Regions from separate parts of the Homo sapiens genome. Here regions 1 and 3 are each linked to region 2. The links come from fine-mapping of genetic effects on gene expression. A gene starts in region 2. Each other region holds a variant in brackets. All regions are shown on one strand. Distances are between the middles of the regions.

Region 1 (10,444 bases), 42 kb before region 2:
CTAAGAAACGTTATCTCTTTTTTTTTTTTTTAGATGGAGTCTTCCTCTGTAGCCCAGGTTGGAGTGCAATGGCGTATCTCTCAGCTCACTGCAACCTCCGCCTCCTGGGTTTAAGCAATTCTCCGGCCTCAGCCTCCTGAGTAGCTGGGACTACAGGAGCCCGCCACCACGCCCAGCCAATTTTTTGTATACTTAGTAGGGACGGGGTTTCCCCGTGTTAGCCAGGATGGTCTCGATCTCCTGACCGCGTGATCCACCCGCCATGGCGTCCCAAAGTGCTGGGATTATAGGCATGAGCCACCGCGCCCGGCACAGCCTTAGAAACATTCTTAAAGGAACCGCAGCTAAAACTGACATCAGACTTTGTTTACAACCTCCTACCAGCACCACCACCACCAAATGTAAAACTATCCTGTAATACTCCTATCACACTAATTTGTCCTCTTCTCCATCCCTGTTCAACAATCTACCATGGATCAAAATGATTCTCTAGACAGAGAATAAAATTTCCTTTAAAATCAACAAACATAACAAATTTGGGCTCCTGTATTTAAAGTAAACATTAACACACACTCAACATCACAATTAAGTTTACTAAAATACTCTGAAGCGTTTGCAATGAAAACCTCTTAAGAATAAAAACAGGCCGGGCACGGTGGCTTGCGCCTGTAATCCCAGCACTTTGGGAGGCCGAGGCGGGTGGATCACAAGGTTAGGAGATCGAGGCCAACCTGGCTAACACAGTGAAACTCCATCTTTACTAAAAATACAAAAAACTAGCCAGGCGTGGTGGCAGGCACCTGTAGTCCCAGCTACTCGGGAGACTGAGGTGGGAGAATGGTGTAAACCCAGGAGACGGAGCTTGCAGTGAGCCAAGATCGCGCCACTGCACTCCAGCCCGGTCAACAGAGCGAGACTCCATCTCAAAAAAAAAAAAAGAAAAGAAAAGAAAAGAAAAGAATAAAAACAGCAGGGCGCAGTGGCTAACGCCTGTAATCCCTGCACTTTGGGAGGCTGAGGCGGGCAGAACACCTGAGGTCAGGAGTTCAAGACCAGCCTGACCAACATGGAGAAATCCCGTCTCTACTAAAAATACAAAAACTAGGTAGTCGTGATAACGGGTGCCTGCAACCCCAGCTACCCTGGGAAGCTGAGGCAGGAGAATCGCTTGAACCCGGGAGGCAGAGTTTGCAGTAAGCCGAGATTGAGCCACCGCACTCCAGCCTGGGTGTCGCAGCAAGACTCCGTCTCAAAAAAAAAAAAAAGAGACCCAAGGGCCAACATTCAATTTCTCTACAGAATCCCAGAGGGAAATGGGAAACCAGTTCCCTTTTAGATAAAATATTTCAACAAAGAGAAAAACTTCATAAATACCTACTGATACCATCTGGATTTAAATACACTTAACTTCAGCCCCCTAAAATTGAATTGAATGAAGATAAAATAAACTGCTTGCTCTCCACTCCTCCTGTCCTCAACCTTTGAAACAGTGTAAAGGAAGAGCTAAACTAAGTTCCCAAAATGGAACTCCGTACTGTAGCACCATTTCCTATAAAGGCAGCAATTACAATTTCATAGAGGGCAGGCGGTGAATCTAAATTCTAGCTTGATATAACGACAAGCCAAGGAATGTCTAAAGAGAGTACAAACAAATCCTGCAACTGAAAGAGGTGCCTGTTTCACTCCGTGCTTGCTTACCGTCACCCTGCATGTCTGAAGTCCATAGTGTCAGATTATCACGTAACAACTGCATGATAAGTGTAGAGTCCTTATAGCTTTCTTCACTCAGCGTATCCAGTTCTGCAATTGCATCATCAAAAGCTGCTTTTGCCAACCTAAAGGTATTTCAATAGAAGTGTTATAAAAATTAAGTCCAAAATCAGAATTAGAAATGACATGCTAGACAGCAATCTTTTCTTCAGTTATTCCAGTTTGTAATAGTCACAATGATAATGCAAAGAAAAAGCAAATACAATAAAAATTAACTTAAAGGTATGTGGAACACTACTTCTTACTATGCTTTAAGCCTGCTACTGATATGCTATAATATACATATCGACTAATAAAATACATAGAACAACTTCCATCCTAAACCATCACCAAAAAATATACCTCCAAGTTCTAGGCAATAGTTCACTTATTTCAAAAAGTTTTGTTTGTTTGTTTTTAAGACGGAGTCTGGCTCTGTCGCCCAGGCTGGAGTGCAGTGGCGTGATCTCGGCTCACTGCAAGCTTCGCCTCTCAGGTTCATGCCATTCTCCTGCCTCAGCCTCCCGAATGGCTGGGACTACAGGCGCCCGCCACCACACCCGGCTAATTTTTTGTATTTTTAGTAGAGATGGGGTTTCACCGTGTTAGCCAGGATGGTCTCGATCTCCTGACCTCGTGATCCACCAGCCTCAGCATCCCAAAGTGCTGGGATTACAGGCGTGAGCCACCGCGCCCAGCCTAGTTTTTTTTTTTTTTTTTTTTTTTTTTTTTTTTTAAGGGATTCGTTATGTTGCCCAGGCTGGACTTGAACTCCTGCGTTCAAGCAATCTTCCGAACCTTAGCCTCTTGAGTGGCTGGGACAAACGGTACACACTACCACCCCCAAGATTTTTTAAAAAAAAAAAAAAAAAAAAAAAAAAAAAAAATTTTTTTTTTTTTTTTTTTTTTTTGGGGGACGGGGTCTCGCTCTATCACCCAGGCTGGAGTGCAGTGGCGGGATGTAGGCTAAATGCAAGCTCCGCCTCCTGGGTTCACACCATTATCCTGCCTCAGCCTCCCGAGTAGCCGGGACTACAGGCGCCCGCCACCACACCCGGCTGATTTGTTTTTATATTTTTAGCAGAGGCAGGGTTTCACCGTGTTAGCCAGGATGGTCTTGATCTTCTGACCTCGTGATGTGCCCGCCTCAGCCTCCCAAAGTGCTGGATTACAAGGTTGAGATATTTAACAAAGTATTAATGCAAAAAGAAAATCTTGGACAATACCTCAAAGTTTAAAAAAATTTAATTTCACGTTAATGGAGGCAGGGAAGCAAAGAAAATAAAAGGCAACACAGACGCCATGGAAATGTGATTATGTAAGCCATTTACAGTTTTAAAAGAAAATCCACACTTACTGAGTACTGTGTACTATGTCCAACAAACGATACGATATACCAATAGAAAAAAAAGAGACATAATCTAAGTCCACATCAACTTAAAAATTTAGAAATGGAGGGTAGACAAATACATAACTATTTTACAAGGAGGAGGCTGGCTGTGGTGGCTCATGCCTGTAATCAGCACACTTTGGGTGGCTGATGCGTGCGCGCAGATCACTTGAGGCCAGGAGTTCAAGACCAGCCGGGCCACCATGGCAAAACCTATTAAAAACACAAAAAATTAGGCCGGGTGCAGTGGCTCAAGCCTGTAATCCCAGCACTTTGGGAGGCAGAAGCGGGCGGATCACGTGGTTAGGAGATCGAGACCATCCTGGCTAACACAGTGAAACCCCGTCTCTACTAAAAATACAAAAAAATTAGCCGGGAGCAGTGGCAGGTGCCTGTAGTCCCAGCTACTTGGGAGGATGAGGCAGGAGAATGGTGTGAACCCAGGAGGCGGAGCCTGCAGTGAGCCGAGATCACGCCACTGCAGTCCAGCCTGGGCAACAGAGCAAGACTCCGTCTAAAAACACACACACACACACACACACACACACACACACACACACACACAAAATTAGCCGGGCATGGTGGCGTATGCCTGTAATCCCAGCTACTCAGGAGGCTGAGGCAGAAGAATCCCTTGAACCTGGGAGGCGGAGGTTGCAGTGAGGTGAAACTGTGCCAATGCACTCCAGCCTGGGCAAGAGAGCACAAAAACAAAAGAAGAAGAAGAATGAAGTGCTATTCCAAATAAAGTATTTCAGGGACCCAGAAGGAGGAGCAATTAAAGGGAAAGTCAAATTTGAACTAATCTCAATGGATAAGGAGAAAACAAAACACACTTCAGGTTTAAGCAGAAGCATGAGCAAAGGCATGCGAGTGACTTTAAACTGGAGCTACACGTGGGACAGCTAGACTGGAGTCTGACAAGGAAAGGTGCAACCACCAGTATTAGCTAAATAGCCACAGCTTCTTCAGTTACGATCCCTATCTGGACAAACTCAACTAGCCATTTAGAATGTTTTTACATTGGCTGGGCGCAGTGGCTCACGCCTGTAATCCCAGCACTCTGGGAGGCTGAGGCAGGTGGATCACCTGAGGTCAGGAGTTCGAGACCAGCCTGACCAAGATGGTGAAAACCTGTCTCTACTAAAAATGCAAAAAAAAAAAAAAATTCAGTCAAGCGCAGTGAAGCATGCCTATAATAGTCAACATTAAAGTTCCAATGTATCAGTTAATCCCCTTTCCTCAAACTTTGAAAGGCTTTCACTTAAAAACCCTACTTTGCTTAAGCAGTTGTCCTCAAACAAACCAAAAAAAAACACATACAAAAACCAAAAGGGGCCGGGCGCGGTGGCTCACGCCTGTAATCCCAGCACTTTGGGAGGCCGAGGAGGGCAGATCACGAGGTCAGGAGATCGAGACCATCCTGGCTAACACAGGGAAACCCCATCTCTATTAAAAATACAAAAAATAGGCCGGGCGCGGTGGCTCACACCTGTAATCCCAGCACTTTGGGAGGCCGAGGCGGGTGGATCACGAGGTCAGGAGATCGAGACCATCCTGGCTAACACGGTGAAACCCCATCTCTACTAAAAATACCAAAAATTAGCCGGGCGTGGTGGCGGGCGCCTGTAGTCCCAGCTACTCGGGAGGCTGAGGCAGGAGAATGGCGTGAACCCGGGAGGCAGAGCTTGCAGTGAGCCGAGATCGCGCTACTGCACTCCAGCCTGGGGGACATAGCGAGACTCCGTCTCAAAAAAAAAAAAAAAAAAATACAAAAAATTAACCGGGCGTGGTGGCGGGTGCCTGTAGTACCAGCTACTTGGGAGGCTGAGGCGAGAGAATCGCCTGAACCCAGGAGGCTGAGCTTTCAGTGAGCTGAGATCACGCCACTGTACTCCAGCCACAGCAGCAGAGTGAGACTCCGTCAAAATAAAAAAAAAAAGCAAAAAAACCATTTTGCTACTGCAATATTTACTGTAAAAATTTAAAATAGGCTGGGTGCAGTGGCTCACGCCTGTAATCTCGGCACTTTGGGAGGCCGAGGTGGCTGGATCACTTAAGGTGAGGTGTCCAAGACCAGCCTGGCCAACACTGTGAAAACCCATCTCTACATAAAAATACAAAAATTAGCTGGGTATGGTGGCGGGCGTCTGTAATCCCAGCTACCTGGGAGGCTGAAGCAGGAGAATCGCTTGAAACCGGGAGGCAGAGGTTGCAGTGAGCTGAGATTGCACCACTGCACTCCAGCCTGGGAAACACAGCGAGACTCTCCTCTCGGGGGAAAAAAAAAAAGAAAAAGACAATAGCAAAAAACAACAACAACAACAAAATGCCAACCTACAGAAGAGGAGAAAATACTCACAAACCATTTACTTGCTAAGAGGTTACTATCTGGAATAATGAACTCTCAACACTTAACAAACGAAAAAAACATGAATTCAAAAATGGGCAAAAGGGCCTGGTGCAGTGGCTCAGGCCTGTATTCTCAGCATTTTGGGAGGCTAAGGCAAGAGGATTACTTGAGGCCAGGATTTCAAGACCAGCTTCGGCAACACAGCCAGACCCTGCCTCTACAAAACAAAACAACAAAAAAAAATTTTTTTTTTGAGACGGAGTCTCGCTCTGTCGCCCAGG[C/G]TGGAGTGCAGTGGCGTGATCTTGGCTCACTGCAAGTTCCGCCTCCCAGGTTCACGCCATTCTCCTGCCTCAGCCTCCCGAGTAGCTGGGACTACAGGCGCCCGCCACCACGCCCGGCTGATTTTTTGTATTTTTAGTAGAGACGGGGTTTCACCACGTTAGCCACGATGGTCTCGATCTCCTGACCTCGTGATCTGCCCTCCTCGGCCTCCCAAAGTGCTGGGATTACAGGCGTGAGCCACTGCACGCAGCCCAAAAAAAATTTAAAAATTGGCCGGGCGCAGTGGCTCATGCCTGTAATCCCAGCACTTTGGGAGGGAGGCTGAGGTCAGGAGTTTGAGACCAGCCTAACCAAGATAGTGAAACCTCGTCTCTACTAAAAATGCCCCCAAAAATTAGCCAAGCATGGTGGCACATGCCTGTAATCCCAGCTACTTGAGAGGCTGAAGCACCAGAATCGCTTGAATCTGGGAGGTGGAGGTTGCAGTGAGCTGCGATCGCACCACTGTACTCCAGCCTGGCCAGCAGAGCGAGACTCCATCTTAAAAAAAAAAAAAAAAAAGGGCTGGCCAAGCACAGTGGCTCACACCTGTAATCCCAGAACTTTGGGAGGCCGAGGCGGGCAGATCACACGAGGTCAGGAGTTCGAGACTAGCCTGGCCAACACTGTGAAACCCCATCCCTACTAAAAATACAAAAAATTAGCCAGGCATGGTGGCAGGCGCCTATAATCCCAGCTACTTTGGATGCTGAGGCAGGAGAATCGCTTGAACCTGGAAGGCAGAGGTTGCAGTGGGCCAAGATCACGCCACTGCACTCCAGCCTGGGTGACAGTGCCAGGCTCTCCCTCAAAAAAAAGAAAAAAGAAAAAAAAAAGGAAAAGAAAAGGCCAGGTATGGTGGCATCCACCTCTAGTGACAGCTACTTGGAAGGCTCAGGTAGGCGAATCGGCTGAGCCCAGGAAGCCAAGGCTGCAGTGAGCTATGAGTGCACAACTGCAGAGACAGAACAAGATCCTGTCCGGAAAAAAAAGTTACCCACAGAATTTTCAGTCCCAATTCCACCTCAAGGTGAAGTTAAATACAAGGACTCAAGCAAATACTTAGTGCACCCATTTTCATAGCAGCATTGTACTCACCATAGGGAAAAGGTGGAAACCCACTGACCACCAAAAGTTTAATGACTAAACAATGTGTGCAAAATACATAAAATGAATTGTGTAAATTCAGTCACTAAAAGGACTGAAGCTCTGATCCATGCTTTTACATGGATAAAAACATTACGCTAGATGAAATAAAGACAGCCACAAAAGGACAAATATTATATGATCCCACTTACATGAGGTATCTAGAATGGGCCAAATTCATAGTGACAACGTAAAATAAAAGTTACTAGCAGCTAGGGAGAGGGGAAATGAAGTTATTGATTGTTTAATGGCTATAATTCGCTTTGTGTGGGGTGAAGAGAAAGTTTTCAAATAGTGGTGATTACACAACACTGTCAATGTATTCGGTGCCACTAAATTGTTGTGTGTGTGTGTGTGTGTGTGTGTGTGTGTGTGTGTGTGTGTAAAAGTCTCGCTTTGTCGCCCAGGCGAGAGGGAGAGGGAGACGGGGAGAGAGAGGGAGACGGGGAGGGGGAGGGGGGGAGGAGGGGGAGGGGGGGAGAGAGGGGGAGAGAGAGAGAGAGAGATTTGAAAAAAAGTCTCACTGTGTCACCCAGGCTACAGTGTACTGGTGCAATCGAGGCTCACCGCAACCTCTGCCTCCTGGGTTCAAACAATTCTCCTGTCTCAGCCTCCCGAGTAACTGGGATTGCAGGCATGCACCACCACACCCGGCTAATTTTGTATTTTTAATAGAGACAGAGTTTCACCATGTTGGTCAGGTTGGTATCGAACTCCTGATCTCAGGTGACCCACCCACCTCAGCCTCCCAAAGTGCTGGGATTACAGGCGTGAGCCACTGCACCCAGGCTATCACAACTTTTTAAAAGTAAAAAGTTATGTACGTATAAATATTCCTTACATATTTATCTACATTATCAAAAACTGGGAACAAGCTGAAGTATAAATGGGGGAACAGTTTAACACACATTAGTAAGACTGAAACTTGTTTATGCTAAAACAGAAAATATAAAATTATGTTTGCTACGAGAGTAACTATTAAAAACATGCCCATAGAAACAGAACACTGGCTGGGTGTGGTGACTCATGCTTGTAATCTCAGCACTTTGGGAGGCGAAGGCGGGCGGATCACTTGAGGTCAGGAGTTCCAGACCAGCCTAGCCAAAATGGTGAAAACACCGTCTCTACTAAAAATACAAAAAAAATTAGTTGGGCATGGTGGCAGGCCCCTGTAACTCCAGTTACTCAGGAGGCTGAGACAGGAGAATCACTTGAACCCAGGAGGTGAAGGCTGCAGTGATCTGAGATGGCGCCACTGCACTCTAGCCTGGGAGACAGAGTGAGACATGGTCTCAAATTTAAAAAAAGACTGAAAACTAATATAACAAAAATTAAAATAATTCTAATTCCTCTCATTTCCTTCCTCTACTCATTTTAACATGTTAGATTTCAATCTACCAGCAACAAAAATATCCCACATCAAAATAATTATGCTGACTGCTATGCTAGTGGGTTGAGACAGGTCTGTTTTAATACTATCCAAAGTAGTTTCAGTAAGAGCCAAAAGAATTACTATGCAGCCAAGTCTACAAAGACAGGCCCAAGAAACAACACGGAAAACCCAAACAGCGCCCCCCTTAACTTTCACGCTGAGCGCTGCTGTTCTTCCCCACAACTTACCTGCAGGCACGGTCAGGGGAATTAAGAATTTCGTAGTAGAATACGGAAAAATTGAGAGCAAGACCTAAGCGAATAGGATGCGTTGGTGGAAGTTCTGTCATTGCAATATCACTAGCAGCTTTATAAGCCACTAGGCTGTTCTCCGCAGCCTCCTTCCTGTCGTTTCCTGTGGCAAATTCTGCCAGATACCTGTGGTAGTCCCCTTTCCTAAAACAAAACCAAAATTAAAAAAAAAAAAAAAATTTAAACTAGGAACGATTTTTAAAGGAAAATAAGCTAAAATTGTTCTATATTATATAAAATGTGACAAAAATATATGTAACAATTAGGTGTACTTCAATAATTTTAAACACTCTCAGGAATAACTGGCTTCGTTTCATTTTTTTCCTTAGACATTTCATATTACTAAATATAAGCAAAAATCCCAGGAAATTAACTGAGGAGCCTCTAAAAATTAATAAAATTATCACCTGATAGACCAGAATTAAACAAGCAAGTGGTTCCAAGGAATGGCATGACAGTTTATTAATCATAAAATAAAATGTCTATATATAACACTAAGCACTGTGAAATGTATGCCGTTTGGGGGAGGGGAATGGGATAGGTCTCACAAAAACAAAAGAATATAAATAAGCAAAAGCTAATACATTTTCATAATAGCCCAACCACCTTTTCATTACAATATTAACTATCCTTCTAACATTGAACAATTATTCTTAAATAAAAGTTGAAAACCTACATAGAACAAAGTTATGGTTCTAAAAGGACCAACTTTCAATCTTACATTTTCCCTTCTAGTATAGAACCTACATTTTATAATAGAAAACCTTGGACTCGCCAGTGTTAGCTGCTGGAATGAGGTGTTTGTCCAGTACATCCAGAATGTCACAACAGATTAACTTTAGCTCAGTCTCAACCTAAAAAAAAAAAAATTTTTTTTAAATCAGATTAAGTCTAGAAATTCTACAAATTATTACATATTCTATCTCTGGTTTTGAGGTAGAGAGCTTAGTATTAAAAAGAATTTGTATCCCTCTCCAAACTCCCTTCTTCCTTCTTGACACAAAAGCAGAGAAAAGCTGCCTCTAGGTTATAAAAAGTATCTTTTCCCTTCTGCATGCTGCCTATTGTTACACACACACATGCAGGCACGCACACACGCCAGCCCCCACACCCCCTTCACAGTACCACAGTACAGCTACAGAATTACCAATGACTAAAACTGAACACTGATGCTTCTTGGTAAATGCTGGTCAATTACATGAATTACCTTCTTTCACAAGGTAGCAACGTAAAGACATTGCTCTAAGATCAACAATTAAATAAGAATTTAATAAGCAGAGCTAGGATTTGAACCCAGGCAGGCTGCAAGGGACAGAATCAAAATTTAAACCCAGGCAGTTTGCCTTCAGCACTCACATCCTTAACAACATTCACCAGGCAATTCCTTTAGTGGCAGAGATCCGTAACTATTAAAACACCGAAAACCTATCTACCAAAGTAGCTACTGCCACCCATCTCTATCCACTGATCATGCTGAACACGCACACCACCTCTCAACGCACATCCTCAGCTTGCTTCCTGTTTGCTATTAACTCATGCAGCACTACTGCTGAACCTTTCATGAGGGTCCTCTCCGTGCCCCTGGAACCTCCGTTTCACTGCAGAAAATTCTCTCTTTTTCTTCTATAATCACATCCTTATCCCAAGCAAAACTACTTTCTGAATAAACGACATCCCTGACAGCTTTTCCAATAGAGACTGGTCTAGGAGAAGGAAGACTTCTAAGTTCTCCTAGCTCCTTGCATACTCAATGACTGCTCTATTACTCCAAACTCTTCCTCCTCACAAGCTGATGATCTACA
Region 2 (10,444 bases):
CTTCAGCCTGGGTCACAAAGCAAGACCCTGTTTCAAAAAAAAATTTTTTTTTAATTTAGCCTTCCCATAAATACATACACCTAATATGTGCCCATTAAAAAATTAAAAATTTAGGCCAGGTACAGTGGCTCATACCTGTAATGCTAGCCCTTTGGGAGGCTGAGGCGGGAGGATCACCTGAGGTCAGGAGTCAGAGATCAGCCTGGCAAACATGGTGAAACCCCATCTCTACTAAAAATACAAAAATTAGCCAGGTGCGATGGCGGGCGCCTGTAGTCCCAGCTACTCGGGAAGCAGAGGCAGGAGAATCGCTTGAACCCAGGGGGCAGAGGCTGCAGTGAGCCGAGATCCTACCACTACACTCCACCCTAGGTGACAGAGCAAGACTGTCTCAAAAAAATAAATAAAAATAAAACTGCAGCCTTTACTCCATGCTTGTCATTACTGTTTGTGTACACAGTGTTCTTGAAATATAAAGAAAAAATATGCCTGCAGTATCAGTCACCCTTACAGTCATCCATGAAAAAAAAAAACAATCAGGCCGGGTGTGGTGGCTCACGCCTGTAATTCCAACACTTTGGGAGGCCGAGGCAGGCAGATCACCTGAGGTCAGGAGTTCAAGACCAGCCTGGCAAACATGGTAAAACCCTGTCTCTACCAAAAACACAAAAATTGGCTGGGTGCGGTGGCTCACACCTGTAATCCCAGCAGTTTGGGAGGCTGAGGTGGGCAGATCACCTGAGATCAGGAGATAAAGACCATCCTGGCCAACATGGTGAAACCTCGTCTCTACTAAAAATACAAAAAATTAGCCGAGTGTGGTGGCACGCGCCTGTAGTCCCAGCTACTTGGGAGGCTGAGCCAGGAGAACCGCTTGAACCTGGGAGGCGGAGGTTGCAGTGAGCCAAGACCACGCCATTGCACTCCAGCCTGGGGGACAGAGCCCAGTCGTAGAAGGGATTTTTAACACTACGTTACTCAGTTCTGTCTATGCATTTAAGAAGGAGAAAAATAAACTTTACTCCAGAAAGTTAGTCCATTAACTGAAACGGCAATGGAAAATTACTGGCCTACAGTCAAAGAACTGGTAGTTAATCTAAATACTTCTAAACTTATTAACAACGTTAATTTACTACTACCTATTTTTTTCCTAACAAGACCGTAGTAAAAAGTTCATTCCACACATGCTCCCTTCCCTGTTCTTCACTAACTAGCAGAATAAGCTAGCTAGAGATGAGGATCTGGTGTTTTAAAAGGACAGCTCTCAGCGGGCTCAGTGGCTCACGCCTGTAACCCCAGCACTCTGGGAGGCCGAGGCGGGCGGATCACCTGAGGTCAGGAGTTCGAGATCAGCCTGGCCAACATGGCGAAACCCCATCTCTACTAAAAATACAAAATTAGCCTGGCATAGTGGCGGATGCCTGTAATCCCAGCTACTCTTGGAGGCTGAGGCAGGAGAATCGCTTGAACCCAGGGGATGGAGGTTGCAGTGAGCCGAGATCGCGCTATTGCACTACAGCCTGGGCGACAAGAGCAAGACTCCGTCTCAAAAAAAAGACAGCTCTTGACCAGGCGCGGTGGCTCAGGTCCTTAATGTCAGCACTTTGGGAGACTGAGGTGGGCGGATCACCTGAGGTCGGGAGTTCGAGACCAGCCTGACCAACATGGAGAAACCGTGTCTCTACTAAAAAAGAAATACAAAATTAGCATGGCATGGTGGCACATGCCTGTAGTCCCAGCTACTCGGGAGGGTGAGGCAGGAGAATCGCTTGAACCCTGGAGGCGGAGGTTGCAGTGGGCCGAGATTGTGCCACTTCAATAAAGCCTGGGAGACAGAGCGAGACTCCGTCTCAAAAGAAAAAAAAGACAGCTCTCAAGTAAATGACTCAACAGATGCATTCCTAGGGAATCCAACATGACCATCAAAACTTCATCCTACCTTCCATGAAGCCAATCTTGATAGGGAAGAGACTAGGAAAGGACAAAACCAACAACAGCCCCACAAGCCCAAATGTAGTTTATGTTACCCCTCTGCTCCCCAAAAACGGGTAAACTTTTCCCCTCTATATTCCCCGTTTTTTATTGTTGCTGTTGCCCAGGATGGAGTGCAATGGCGCAATCTCGGCTCACCGCAACCTCGGCCTCCCGGGTTCAAGTGATTCTCCTGCCTCCGCCTCCCAAGTAGCTGGGATTACAGGCACCCACCACCCCCGGCTAATTTTGTATTTTTACTACAGACGGGGTTTCTCCATGTTGGTCAGGCTGGTCTCGAACTTCTGACTTCAGGTGATCCACCCGCCTTGGCCTCCCAAAGTACTGGGATTACAGGCATGAGCCACCGCACCTGGCCTCTTTTTTTTTTTTTTGGAGACAAGAGTCTCGCTCTGTTGCCCAGGCTGTAGTGTAATGCCATAATCCTGGTTCACTACAACCTTCACCTCCCGGGTTCAAGTGATTCTTCCACCTCAACCTCCTCAGTAGCTATGCCCGGATAATTTTTTTATTTTTGTAGAGACAGGGTTTCACCATGTTGGCCAGGCTGGTCTTGAACTCCCGACCTCAGGTGATCCACCCGCCTCGACCTCCCAAGGTGCTGGGATTACAGGCGTGAGCCACCCCGCCCGGCCTTTCTTCCCCACTTTCTTGTACTATTTCATATACGGGACAGTAAGAGCTGTTTGAGAAATGCTAAGAAATAATGGACTTGCTTAATATGGTTTCAAAGGAGGTAAAAACGATTCGAATAGACTACTGGCTTGTTAAAGTGATGAGATGCTAGATTTAATCTTCAACTCCCAGCCCCAAACTTAAATATTTCCTGTGACCCAAAATTGTCATTTTCCTGAACACAGGTTAGCTCTTCCTCCCGTACTGTTAAATAATCCATATAAATTGATTCCAACGCCCCAGGATAGAATTAAATGAGGATACAAAGAAGTTTAGGCACTAATTCAACACAGCAAGCAAAATAAAATAAGCCTGCTGCAGTAACAGAGAGATAAAAGGGCAGCTGGAAACCCAGCATTTGGGTACAAGTACCCAACAAAGAAATCCTGCCAATACACTGTCTTACCTTCTTCCACCCCCGACACCTGCTAAGTTCTGTTTGGTGACCAGAACTCCGGGAAAACTTTGCCACCAGAAACAAAAAAATACCGCACTCAATAAAGGAATGGACACAGGTAGAGGACACAGGTAGAAATTCCTGGTTTCTGTCTCCTCCTCCTCCTCTCCTTTCCACTGAGTCCCTACCTTATGCCCCAAGTCACAGCAATAGCTCCTCACCTTGTAGATCCTATTTCCTTACCCCTTTAGATCCTGAAGGGGACACCTAACATTAACAACTGTAATAATGTGGCTGTATCAGAGTCCCATGTTCAATAACCAATAAGGGCTCTGGTCAGAAATCCTCACCACTCACATCAAAAATATAATTATCACTAACCTGTACTTTATTTGGAAACTACAATCACAAGCTTTCAAATCAGTTTTTTAAAGGAGCTTTCAAAAAGAAAAAGACCTTTCCTCACATCCTTTCTAGTTATCACAGCAAGTTTACTTAAAAAGCCCCAATACCCACAAAATAGAAAGCATTCAAGTACAATTTGTTTCCTCCCAAGAACACTAACAGATTAAGAGGGGAACATCTGGAGATGAGGGGGCGGAGGAGGAGACTTCCAATACAAGCACATTCATATCTCTTTGATTTTTAAACACTGAAATAAAGACAAAGCAGACCTTGAGCTGTACTTCCCCATCTTATCCCCCCCCCCAACAGGAACCTTGTTGAATACAAATAGCAATTTAAGAATTTACAAGACGAAATTTAGTTCACTATATTTCCTAAATATGAGTTCTAGAGGCCTTGTCTTATTTTCAAATCCCTGAATCTTATTTCTGATGATAAGGGGGACTAACCCTGAGGTTATTCACATGACTAAATCCGCATTTCGAGGAAAGCAAGGGCCCTAACATTTTGAAATATAGGTATTTTAATTAGGAAAAAAATCTAAGAATCAAAGATACTTGATTCCAACCATGTCTCACCCCACCCTACCACGCAAAAGCATTAAAACCACAGGACCCACAGACATGACCTTTCGTTTAATACTACAGTATCGCACAATTATAAATGTGTGGGTATTTCAAAAGGTGGTCCAAAAGGTGGACTGGGAGAGAGGATTAAGAATAAACTTCCTGACAATGACTGGACAGACACAATGGACATTCGATGAAGTTCTGAAAAAGGACTGGAGAACCCATTAGGGGCAAAAGAACAACGAACAAAGAGGACCTACTAATATTTCTACATAAACCCATTTATTTAAAACGGAAAAAAAGAAAGCAACAGGATCTTCAACCTTCATAACTCAAAAAACCCAGCCTCAGCCGAGCGCCTGGAATAGGTTAAGATCCCCCACGAAGTACAGACCAGCATTCCGAGCCTGCAGAGTCAACCAAAATACAGTTACTGAACACTATTGGAAATAACTTTATTTCAACAGGTCTTCCCATTTGTCATCACGGTGCGCACAAACTGTAAAGTCATCGTTTTTACAAACGGGGGGACGGAGGCTCGGGCTCTACAAAGGCTCGAACTCTCAGAGTCGTGGCCTCCTGGTTCTATCCATCAGAACCCACGGGTGATGGAGCCAGAGAAAGGTTACAGGAACTTCGAGATCTCCTGTTTTAAGTCTGAGGAAAGGGAGGGAGTGAGGATTTTCTGGGCCTCCCCAGAAGACGACGAGGAGGAAAAGCCCCGAAACCCCTCACTACGAGGTGCCGGCCTACGGGAAAGAAACCCGATCGCAGCATGGGAGCCTGCCACCGCCCGAAGACGAACTGCAGTGATTCCCACTCACCCCTCTCCCCCCACCATCATCCACGACTGTCCCCCACCTCAGGCCTGAGGAAGCCCATCGCTCTCAAAGGTCCTCCTTTGTGAGACTCCACGGCCGCCGCCCCACACGGGGCCTCCGGGGAAAAGCCACCGCCCCCACCCGCCATATTTCCCTGAAAGGCGCCCGCGCTACAGCTCCCGGTCTTCGCTCTCTCCCATGTGGCGGGTGCTGCTTCCCCCGTCACCCCACCCAATTGTTCTCCACATCCCAAGGCCGTCCCAGAAGCTCCCATGAGGGTGGCTCGTTCGGAGACAGCACCCGCCATCTCCTCCCCCTCCCCCGCCCCGGGACTCGCCCTCCCCCCAGCCGCCATTTTACAACCAACTCCTCCACCCCGTCGCCCCGGCCTCCCGGCCCGCGAGTTGTTTGCAGTTAAGGACGGCGAAGGGGTCACATTCCAGGGCATAGAGCCTCCCATCGCCCCGGGAGCTCCCAGGCCATTTCCTGCTTCCCGAACCCAAGCCCCCGGGCCAGGCTCGCAGACGATGCCGCCATTTTGTCTCCTGTTCCCGGCCTCTGTGGGCGGCGGCAGAGGGTCCGAGAATTCCAGCCCCCCGTTGCCCCCCCAACTCACCGTCGTATCGCTCAGCCTGCTCGGCCAGCTTCGCCTGGTACACCAGATCCTCTCGATCATCCATAGCGGCAGCGGCTCCGGCAGGGTCTGCGCGACGGATGGAAGCGGATAGTGTCTCCGACTCTCTCAGCCTCTCGCTCCGCGTCCGGGCAGCAAAAATGGCGGCGCCTCAATCCGGGACTTCCGCCTGCGCACGCGGACAACTGCTCAGCTCTATGGCAACCGCTCCCTGGCAACTGGCGCGGGGGGCGGGTCCTGGAACTCGGCGCCCGAAGCGGCTGGAACGAGCGCACGAGACGCCTCTCCTCTGTCGGCTCAGCGGGCGCCGGAGCCCAGAGGCGGGAACTGCGACTGCCGAAAGGGAGCGGCCCCCGGGGAACGAGAAGGGCTGAGGCGGGGCCGGCCGGGACTGCTCCTGAAAAAAGCCAGCGAGAGACCTGGGTCAGACCGGGGCCCGAGGCCCGACCTGCGGAAAAGAACGACGGAGGCTGTAACGGTTTCTGTCATGGCAGGTCTTCTTTCCCGAAATCTGAGGCTGTCACTACCGCGCCCTGGTTTTCTTTTCTTTTTTCTTTTTTCTTTTTTCTTTTTGAGACGGAGTTTCCCTCTTGTTCCCCAGGCTGGAGTGCAGTGGTGCGATCTCGGGTTACCACAACGTCCGCCTTCCCGGGTTCAAGTGATTCTGCTGCCTCAGCCTCTCGAGTAGCTGGGATTTCAGGCCCCCGCCACCACCCCCAGCTTTTGTATTTTTAATAGAGATGGGGTTTCACCATGTTGGCCAGGCTGGTCTCGAACTCCCGACCTCAGATGATCCGCCCCCCCTCGGCCTCCCAAAGCGCTGGGATTCCAGGGGTGAGCCACCGCGCCCAGCCCACGTCCTAGTTTTCTCGGCCAAGCCTGGTCATGGGCCTTTTTCAGACACTTTTAGACTCAGGGTAACGAACCGGGCCCTGGCCGGGCGCGGCGGCTCATGCCTGTCATCCCAGCACTTTGGGAGGCCAAGGCGGGAGGATCACAAGGTCAGGAGTTCGAGACCAGCCTGGCCAATATAGTGAAACCCCGTCTCTACTAAAAATACAAAAAATTAGCTTGGCATGGTGGTGCATGCCTGTCATCCCAGCTACTCAGGAGGCTGAGGCAGGAGAATCTCTTGAACCCGGGAGGCGGAGGTTACAGTGAGCCGAGATCCTCCCATTGCACTCCAGCCCAGGCGACAGTGTGAGACTGTGTTTCAAAAGAAAAATTATATATATATACAAAAATTAGCTGGGCGTGGTGGTGCATGCCTGTAATCCCAGCTACTCCAGAGGCTGAGGCAGGAGAATCGCTTGAACCCGGGAGTGGGAGGGTGCAGTGAACCGAGAGCACACCATTGCACTCCAGCCTGGGCAACAAGAGCACAACTCTGTCTCAAAACAAAGAAAAAGAAAAAAAACGAACTGGGCCCTGTTACAGTTGTCAGGGACAGGGGAGCTCCAGTTTTCACGCCTCAACTTTCCCCTCACACTGATCTTTGTCTTCTCCTGTTTAACCTTTTTCCCTCCCTAGGCCCACTATGAATAGGAGCAGGGAATTTGTTAGATGAGGGTGGTGTGGAGTACATGGTACAGAAGAGTTGGACCAAGATCAAATAAAGATTGTGGAGGCAGGAATAACTCAGTGAACATTGCTTCAGCTTCTGGCGCTTGGGAGGCCCATGCGGAAGGATGACTTGAGCCCAGCCTGGGCAACATAGCGAGACTCCATGTCTATAAAAACGTTTTTTTTTTTTTTTATTTGAGTCGGCATCTCGCTCTGTTGCCCAGGCTGGAGTGCAGTGTCGTGATCTCGGCTCACTGCAACCTCCACCTCCCGGGTTGAAGCAATTCTCCTGCTTCAGCCTCCCAAGTAGCTGAGACTACGGGCACATGCCACCACACCCGGCCAATTTTTTGTATTTTTAATAGAGACGGGGTTTCACCATGTTAGCCAGGGTGGCCTCGATCTCCTGACCTCGTGATCTGCCCACCTCGGCCTCCCAAAGTGCTGGGATGACAGGCCTGAGCCATATCTTAGCAGTTTCAGAGGCTGAAGCAGGAGGATCTCCTGAGTCCAGGAGGTTGAGGCTGCAGTGAACTGTGATTGCACCAGTGGACTCCAGCCTGGGTAACAGAGCGAGACCCTGTCTCAAAAAATAAAGTGGGGAGAGGGAGGGATCTTGCCACGTTGCACAGACTGGCCTTAAACTGAGTTCAAGCAATCCCACCTTGGCCTCCCAAGTAGTTGGGAAACTACAGGCTTGCACCAACGCACCCAATCTTGCATCCTATTTTGTGGCCAAGGGAGCTGTATGATTTTGCGTGGAGGATGATGTCATCATAGTTATATTTCAGAAATATTAACAAATATTCCATAGCAATGATTAAAGAGGAGGATAACCAAACGTAATACGTGGGAGCAATGAAAATAGAAAGGAAAGGATAAATAGGAATAGCACTATAGAGGGAAGCCACAAGCAGCTGATCAGATTGCAGCTCTTTTTTTTTTTTTTACCATTACATATATAACATTTTATTATAATTTAAGGTATAGTCGATAATATAATGTTTTTTTTGTGTTTTTTTTGTTTTTTTTTTTAAATTGATCATTCTTGGGTGTTTCTCGCAGAGGGGGATTTGGCAGGGTCATAGGACAATAGTGGAGGGAAGGTCAGCAGATAAACATGTGAACAAGGGTCTCTGGTTTTCCTAGGCAGAGGACCCTGAGGCCTTCCGCAGTGTTTGTGTCCCTGGGTACTTGAGATTAGGGAGTGGTGATGACTCTTAACGAGCATGCTGCCTTCAAGCATCTGTTTAACAAAGCACATCTTGCACCGCCCTTAATCCATTTAACCCTGAGTGGACACAGCACATGTTTCAGAGAGCACAGGGTTGGGGGTAAGGTCACAGATCAACAGGATCCCAAGGCAGAAGAAGTTTTCTTAGTACAGAACAAAATGAGAAGTCTCCCATGTCTACCTCTTTCTACACAGACACGGCAAGCATCCAACCTCTCAATCTTTTCCCCACCTTTCCCCCCTTTCTATTCCACAAAACCGCCATTGTCATCATGGCCCGTTCTCAATGAGCTGCTGGGCACACCTCCCAGACGGGGTGGCGGCCGGGCAGAGGGGCTCCTCACTTCCCAGTAGGGGCGGCCGGGCAGATGCGCCCCTCACCTCCCGGACGGGGCGGCTGGCCGGGCGGGGGGCTGACCCCCCCACCTCCCTCCCGGACGGGGTGGCTGCCGGGCGGAGACGCTCCTCACTTCCCAGATGGGGTGGCTGCCGGGCGGAGGGGCTCCTCACTTCTCTGACGGGGCGGCTGCCGGGTGGAGGGGCTCCTCACTTCTCAGACGGGGCGGCCGGGCAGAGACGCTCCTCACCTCCCAGACGATGGGCGGCCGGGCAGAGACGCTCCTCACTTCCTAGATGGGATGGCGGCCGGGCAGAGACGCTCCTCATTTTCCAGACTGGGCAGCCAGGCAGAGGGGCTCCTCACATCCCAGACGATGGGCGGCCAGGCAGAGACGCTCCTCACTTCCCAGACAGGGTGGCAGCCGGGCAGAGGCTGCAATCTCGGCACTTTGAGGGGCCAAGGCAGGCGGCTGGGAGGTGGAGGTTGTAGCGAGCCGAGATCACGCCACTGCACTCCAGCCTGGGCACCACTGAGCACTGAGTGAACCAGACTCCGTCTGCAATCCCGGCACCTCGGGAGGCCGAGGCTGGCAGATCACTCGCGGTTAGGAGCTGGAGACCAGCCCGGCCAACACAGCGAAACCCCGTCTCCACCAAAAAAATACGAAAACCAGTCAGGCATGGCAGCGCGCGCCTGCAATCGCAGGCACTCGGCAGGCTGAGGCAGGAGAATCAGGCAGGGAGGTTGCAGTGAGCCGAGATGGCAGCAGTACAGTCCAGCTTCGGCTCGGCATCAGAGGGAGACCGTGGAAAGAGAGGGAGAGGGAGACTGTGGGGAGAGGGAGAGGGAGAGGGAGAGGGCTTTTTTTTTTTTTTTAATTTTGAGACAGTCTCGCTCTGTCGCCCAGGCTGGAGTGCAATGTCACAATCTCGGCTCACCACAACTTCTGTCTCCCAGGTTCGAGCGATTCTCCTGTCTCAGCCCCCCAAGTAGCTGGGATTACAGGTGTGCCCCACCATGCCCAGCTAATTTTTGTATTTTTAGTAGAGACAGGGTTTCACCGTATTAGCCAGGCTGGTCTTGAACTCCGACCTCAGGTGATCCTCCCACCTCAGCCTCCCAAAGTGCTGGGATTACCAGCGTGAGCCACCGCACCTGGCCCAGATTGAAGATCTTATAATAAAAATTGACTTTCCATCTTTCCACCCTGAGAATATTAACAAAAAATGGGAATGCTAGGAACACTTGCTGATGGAATGCAGAGAAAGACAAAGTTCTTTTAGCACATGTTGGTTCAGAGGATCAGGGATCCGCAGGTACCCAAGGATCACCCAGGTAAAAATGACCACGAAGGAGTTGTAAAAGGGGACACGCATTCCAAATAGAAGGGAAGCTGTTGGCCGGGCACAGTGGCTCACGCCTGTAATCCCAGCACTTTGGGAGGCCAAGGCGGGCAGATAATGAGGTCAGGAGTTTGAGACCAGCCTGACCAAAATGGTGAAACCCTGTGTCTACCAAAAATACAAAAAGTAGCTGGGCATGGTGGCACGCGGCTGTAATCCCAGCTACTGAGGAGGCTGAGGCCGGAGAATCACTTGAACCTGGGAGGCGGAAGTTGTGGTGAGCTGAGATTGCGCCACTGCACCTCAGCCTGGGTGACAGAGTGAGACTCCATATCAAAAAAAAAAAAAAGAATAAAAGGAGGTGTCAGTCGTATTAAATTCTGCAGAGACATAAGTCAGATTAGCACTGAGGGAAAGCCATTGGATATAGCGATTAGGTCATTAGTGACCTTCAAAAGGAGTTTCGAAATG
Region 3 (5,000 bases), 56 kb before region 2:
GGCGGATCACGAGGTCAGGAGATCGAGACCATCCTGGCTAACACGGTGAAACCCGGTCTCTACTAAAAATACAAAAAATTAGCCGGGCCTGGTGGCGGGCGCCTGTAGTCTCAGCTACTCTGGAGGCTGAGGCAGGACAATGGTGTGAACCCGGGAGGCGGAGCTTGCAGTGAGCCGAGGTTGCACCACTGCACTCCAGCCTGGGTGACAGAGAGAGACTCTGTCTCCAAAAAAAAAAAAAAAAAAAAAAGTTTAAATACTTTAAATGATCACTTTAGAATATATTAATAAGGGGGAATATAGTATTTCAAGAAAATAGTTTTAATGAAGAGCAAAAGGTAGTATGGCCTAATGAGACTCTTCAGTGACACAGATGAACTGAATTCTGTATTTGAATTATTAGCCATGCAGCTTTCAGCAAGTTCCTTAACTACTTCCCATTCAGCTTTTCCCATCTGCACAATGCAGGCTCACCTGATTATTATTGAGCGCTTACGTGTGAGATTCCAGACATTGCTTAGTAACGAGCACAGTGCCTGGTGCAAAGCTGGTACGCAATGTTAGCAAAACTATTATTATTTTTTTTTTGAGACAAGAATCTCGCTCTGTCGCTCAGGCTGGAGTGCAGTGCTGCGATCTCGGCTCACTGCAAGCTCCGCCTCCCGGGTTCACGCCATTCTCCGGCCTCAGCCTCCCGAGTAGCTGGGACTACAGGCGCCCGCCACCACACCCGGCTAATTTTTTGTATTTTTTAGTAGAGACGGGATTTCACCGTGTCAGCCAGGATGGTCTCGATCTCCTGACCTCGTGATCCGCCCACGTCGGCCTCCCAAAGTGCTGGGATTACAGGCGTGAGCCACCGCGCCCGGCCAATGTTAGCTAAATATTAACAGTATCTATTACAATCCTACGAACTCAAAGAAACAGGATAAAACAACACAGGGCTTGGTTTTCCTGATCCAGGTTGGATCTGGGAGCATTCCCATTTCCTCTCACAGTGCTCACAAAGGCTTCCTTTAATGACACACTCTAGGATTTCACCAGTTTTCCATGAACTATTACTTGTTACAATTTTCAAAAGAACACAGGGGTCACACCTTTATCCCGCTTTTTCAGCAAGCCTCACTCTCCTCTATTGTCCTAGGATCAGGAAGCAGCTAATTTGGGGTCTCATTTATAAGGCTCAAGGCATTTGTCTGGGACAGAAGCCAATTAATGTCTCCATTTATCCCACCAGTTTCCCCTTTCAGTGATGGAAGTTCATCCCCATCTTCCTATAGGACCGAAATTTAACTTTGCAGACGTGCTGTTCTGAGGACCCACCCGGAACAGAGCATGTACACAAACCCACTTACTGTCGCTTCTAACATTGTAGGAAGCCTTTGGGTTTTCCAAGGCAGCAAAGTACTGAGATTTGTAATTAAAAACACATATTAGCTACATTCAAGTTGTAACTAACTAAAAACTTCTACTTAAGTCGACTGATCCTCAAAGTAAGACTCAAATCAAAACCAGAAAAGTTTGGGGGCAATTCCCTTTCCAGCCCACAAATACAGGAACTGGGAGTGACACCGTCCTCACAGGGCTACGGCACCTTTCTGCAGCTTCCCTGGCTCCCTTTCAATTTTTTTTTTTTTTTTTTTTTTTTGAGACGGAGTTCTGCTCTTATTGCCCAGATTAGAGTGCAGTGGCGCGATCTTGGCTCACTGCAAGCTCCGCCTTCCAGTTTCCAGCGATTGTCCTGCCTCAGGCCTCCCAAGTCACTGGATGTTAATTACACCCAGCAAGGTCGCCCGCCACCACGCCTGGCTAATTTTTTTGTATTTTTAGTAGAGACAGGGTTTCCCCATGTTGTCCAGGCTGGTCTCTTAACTGCTGACCTCGTGATCCACCCACCACGGCCTCCGAAAGTGCTGGGATTACAGGC[G/A]TGAGCCACCGCACCCGGCCTTTCAATTTTTGATAAGGATCTTTCCTTTTTTTTTTTTTTGAGACAGTCTCACTCTGTCGCCCAGGCTGGAGTGCAGTAGCGTGATCTCGGCTCACTGCAACCTCTGCCTCCCGGGTTCAAGCGATTCTCCTGCCTCAGCCTCCCGAGTAGCTGGGAGTACAGGCGTGCGCCACCATGCCTGGCTAATTTTTTGTACTTTTAGTAGAGACGGAGTTTCACCGTGTTAGCCAGGATGGTCTCAATCTCCTGACCTCGTGATCCGCCCGCCTCGGCCTCTCAAATTGCAGGGATTACAGGTGTGAGCCACCGCACCCAGCCGAGTGGTTTCTTTAAACTCTGCAACAGACTTGACGAATTCCTTGGATTTTGACCTTTAAGTGTAGCAGGTGTGCTGGAAACAGAGCAAATCAACTTGAAAGCTTCTTGGAGGTTGCTCCAAACAGCAGCATATAATTATATTCAATGGTCTCCCTATCTCTCGGAAAAGCAACTCACAAAAACATGTTTATTCTCATTGCCAGCACTCACTAAACGCTACTAGGATATCGCTGATCTGTTCATTTCCTAAATCTCTGCTACTAACACTTTAAACCGAGAGTAAACTTGCAGTCTCAACATCCAATTTTAGAAGACAAGTGTGACGAGGAAGGATTTATCAACTGAAAAATGTTTACTGACACAGGGAATCTAGAAATGTACCTTCCAGATACATACAAATATTTAAGCAAAAACTGTTCCAAGGGTATTTCCTGCAGCACCTGCCCAAAAGGAGCAAACTGGTCTTAACAAAATCAGGTGTACATCAATGTTACGCAGTCAGAATGAGACACATCTGAATGCCTAACATAAAAAGATCTACAGTAACTAGGTATCTATACACATTGATGTATAAACTGTTTATGGAAAGAAGCTTCTTATACAGTGTTTCTGGAAAGGGAGACTGCTATCCTGCTGTCTATAATGTGTGTATGGATTACTAAGAAAGGATTGAGTAATTCTCCACTACTGCCACTAGCCTCTGGAGGAAGAGGGCACACAGTTTTTACCTCTAAGAATTATTATAAGACATTCAGCCTTATTTGGTTGTATGAAATACTATGCTAGAAAATGATCCATAATTACACCTTGTACTACTCATGTTGTACTTTAATGATTAAAATAAATACCATGTTGCTGCCTGGTCTGGAGGACAAGACACACCATCAACTGACTCAGTGTTCTTCACAACCAGACTACAGGCAATTTTTTTCCAAAACATACATCTTTGGGAAGCAAACAAATTATTTATGGAAGAAAAAAGGAGGAATGTTTCACATTCAGGCAAACATAATACTGTCAGTGTGTTTGGACTAGAGATTTTATTTTAGAAGTATAAAGGATGGAGGCGCGATATTTGGCATTTTTAATTTAGGTTTGTTTTATTTAAGTTTAATGTTAATTCCATGCTGTGTTTCAGTAAGAACAATACAGATTCTGTATCTGTGGCTCCAGTCAGATATCCAGTAGTACAAATTAGCTTCAAGTTACACATACTGAACAAAAGAGGTTGAGCGAGCGAAGGAGGGGAGGAGTGAGGGGAAGGAGGTAGGGGGAGGGGGAAGGAGAAGAAACAAAAGAATTGAACAGGCATGCAGGCTTTTCCATACCACCTTCAACGCTAACCTGCTTCAGTGGGAGAGTAAAGTAGGCAAGAATGAGCAGCCACGGATTGTTGAACTGTTACCAGCACCATGCTTTTCAGCAACATTTCAGCGGAGTTGGAAACATTTTTTACAGCAAAACCATTACAACGAAGTCCCTCCCCAAACCACCTTTAACCATCTCAAGCTAACACCCAATTACTTGCAAACACTGGTATAAAACACAGTTTAAACAATTAGAAAAATGAAAACTGATACCACTTATGCCTCTATAGTGTGATTAACCTCTCTCTTAGATGCTTGCATCACCTATAAGTCTAATGGCTTTCAAATGTAATTTCCATTTGCTAATGGTGATCTTGCCACATCTGGCACGGAGACGACACAGTAATGCTGAAAAAGCCTCTATGTAGTCCTGTTAGTGTCTTAAAGAACCTAAAAGCTGGGACCAGTAAAATCCACAGAAATTCACTCTTGCCTTTAAGAACTTTTGAAAACTGTTTAAAAAAAAAAAAAAAAAACCAACAGGGCAGGAACCTAAATTCTGAGACCAAATGTAAAAGTCAGATTTGGTGGTTCTCAGTGACAATGGGGAGTTTCCAAAGGGTGGGATGGGGAGGAGGGGGTGGTCAGAGATGGTTTCTCTTGTTGGCTTATGTCTCACTGATTTTCGTCTTCCACGTCCTGCAGCGCTTCTTTATTCTGCTCTTCACCTGTTAAAAAAGAAAAAAAGTCAATTATTTCGTATTGACTACATTAGGCTATGGCAGCCACAAACAAAGGTGTCATTCCAAGCATAAAGACTCTTCTACTTGCTACAATTGGTATTAAACGCAGGCAAAGGACTTCTATCATCCTTGACACCTGAGATGCCTAAGCCAAGAAGGGATTATGGTCCTGAAAGTATTTATTGGTCAACAGAATGAAAAAAACTGATGCGCAGTACAACTCAATGTTTTTACGCTAAATAAGCTCTTGACGTAGACAGCCAAGGAAACCATCTTACTAAAATGACATTCAAGCTTTCACATAAATCTTGGGTCAAAATACTCTTTCTCAATAACCTCACCTCTTCAAGAATCAAGAGTATTTTGCAAACTTTTTGCAAAATCTAATTTACCCACAAGCTAATTATCAGAAATGCTTCAAAATAGTTAACTGAGCAATAAACTGTTGCCAAGAAGTTCTATCGTATTTTATTGTGGGGTTCTGCTGTTATAAATATTTCAGCTTTTGTATCTTGGCCAGATACACCAAACTATAATCAGATTTTACTTCAGAGTGAAACACAGCATGCTCAAAGTAAATCAGACCACTGAGGTTATTAAAGAATGGCATTTGGACCACTTCACTCATGCTATTTGTCTTTTGCCTTTAAAGAGGGTGATTACCCTAAGGAGTTTCAACTGCAC

What was found. PIP is the estimated chance that this variant, and not a neighbour inherited with it, causes the effect. A credible set is the group of variants that fine-mapping cannot tell apart.
Region 1: its variant is the best candidate, but not a certain one, in a credible set for the expression of YWHAE in whole blood (TOPMed, PIP 0.90).
Region 3: its variant is the best candidate, but not a certain one, in a credible set for the expression of YWHAE in fibroblasts (GTEx, PIP 0.86).

The regions. Positions count from the first base shown.
Region 1 is chr17:1,352,513-1,362,956 of GRCh38, forward strand. YWHAE (tyrosine 3-monooxygenase/tryptophan 5-monooxygenase activation protein epsilon) reads right to left here. Exons shown (of 6, transcript NM_006761.5): 3 at 9,390-9,496; 4 at 8,580-8,786; 5 at 1,699-1,835. Among named protein-coding and RNA genes, the nearest start is that of YWHAE, 42 kb to the right of the region's middle. The variant C/G (reference allele first, on the strand shown) is at 5,774.
Region 2 is chr17:1,394,572-1,405,015 of GRCh38, forward strand. It overlaps YWHAE (tyrosine 3-monooxygenase/tryptophan 5-monooxygenase activation protein epsilon), which reads right to left and starts at 5,651. Exons shown (of 6, transcript NM_006761.5): 1 at 5,476-5,651. The coding sequence starts at 5,539. RefSeq lists enhancers at 4,236-4,873, 4,874-5,511, 5,512-6,149, 7,092-7,707, 7,708-8,323.
Region 3 is chr17:1,341,199-1,346,198 of GRCh38, forward strand. YWHAE (tyrosine 3-monooxygenase/tryptophan 5-monooxygenase activation protein epsilon) reads right to left here. Exons shown (of 6, transcript NM_006761.5): 6 at 3,077-4,301. The coding sequence ends at 4,249. Among named protein-coding and RNA genes, the nearest start is that of YWHAE, 57 kb to the right of the region's middle. The variant G/A (reference allele first, on the strand shown) is at 1,928.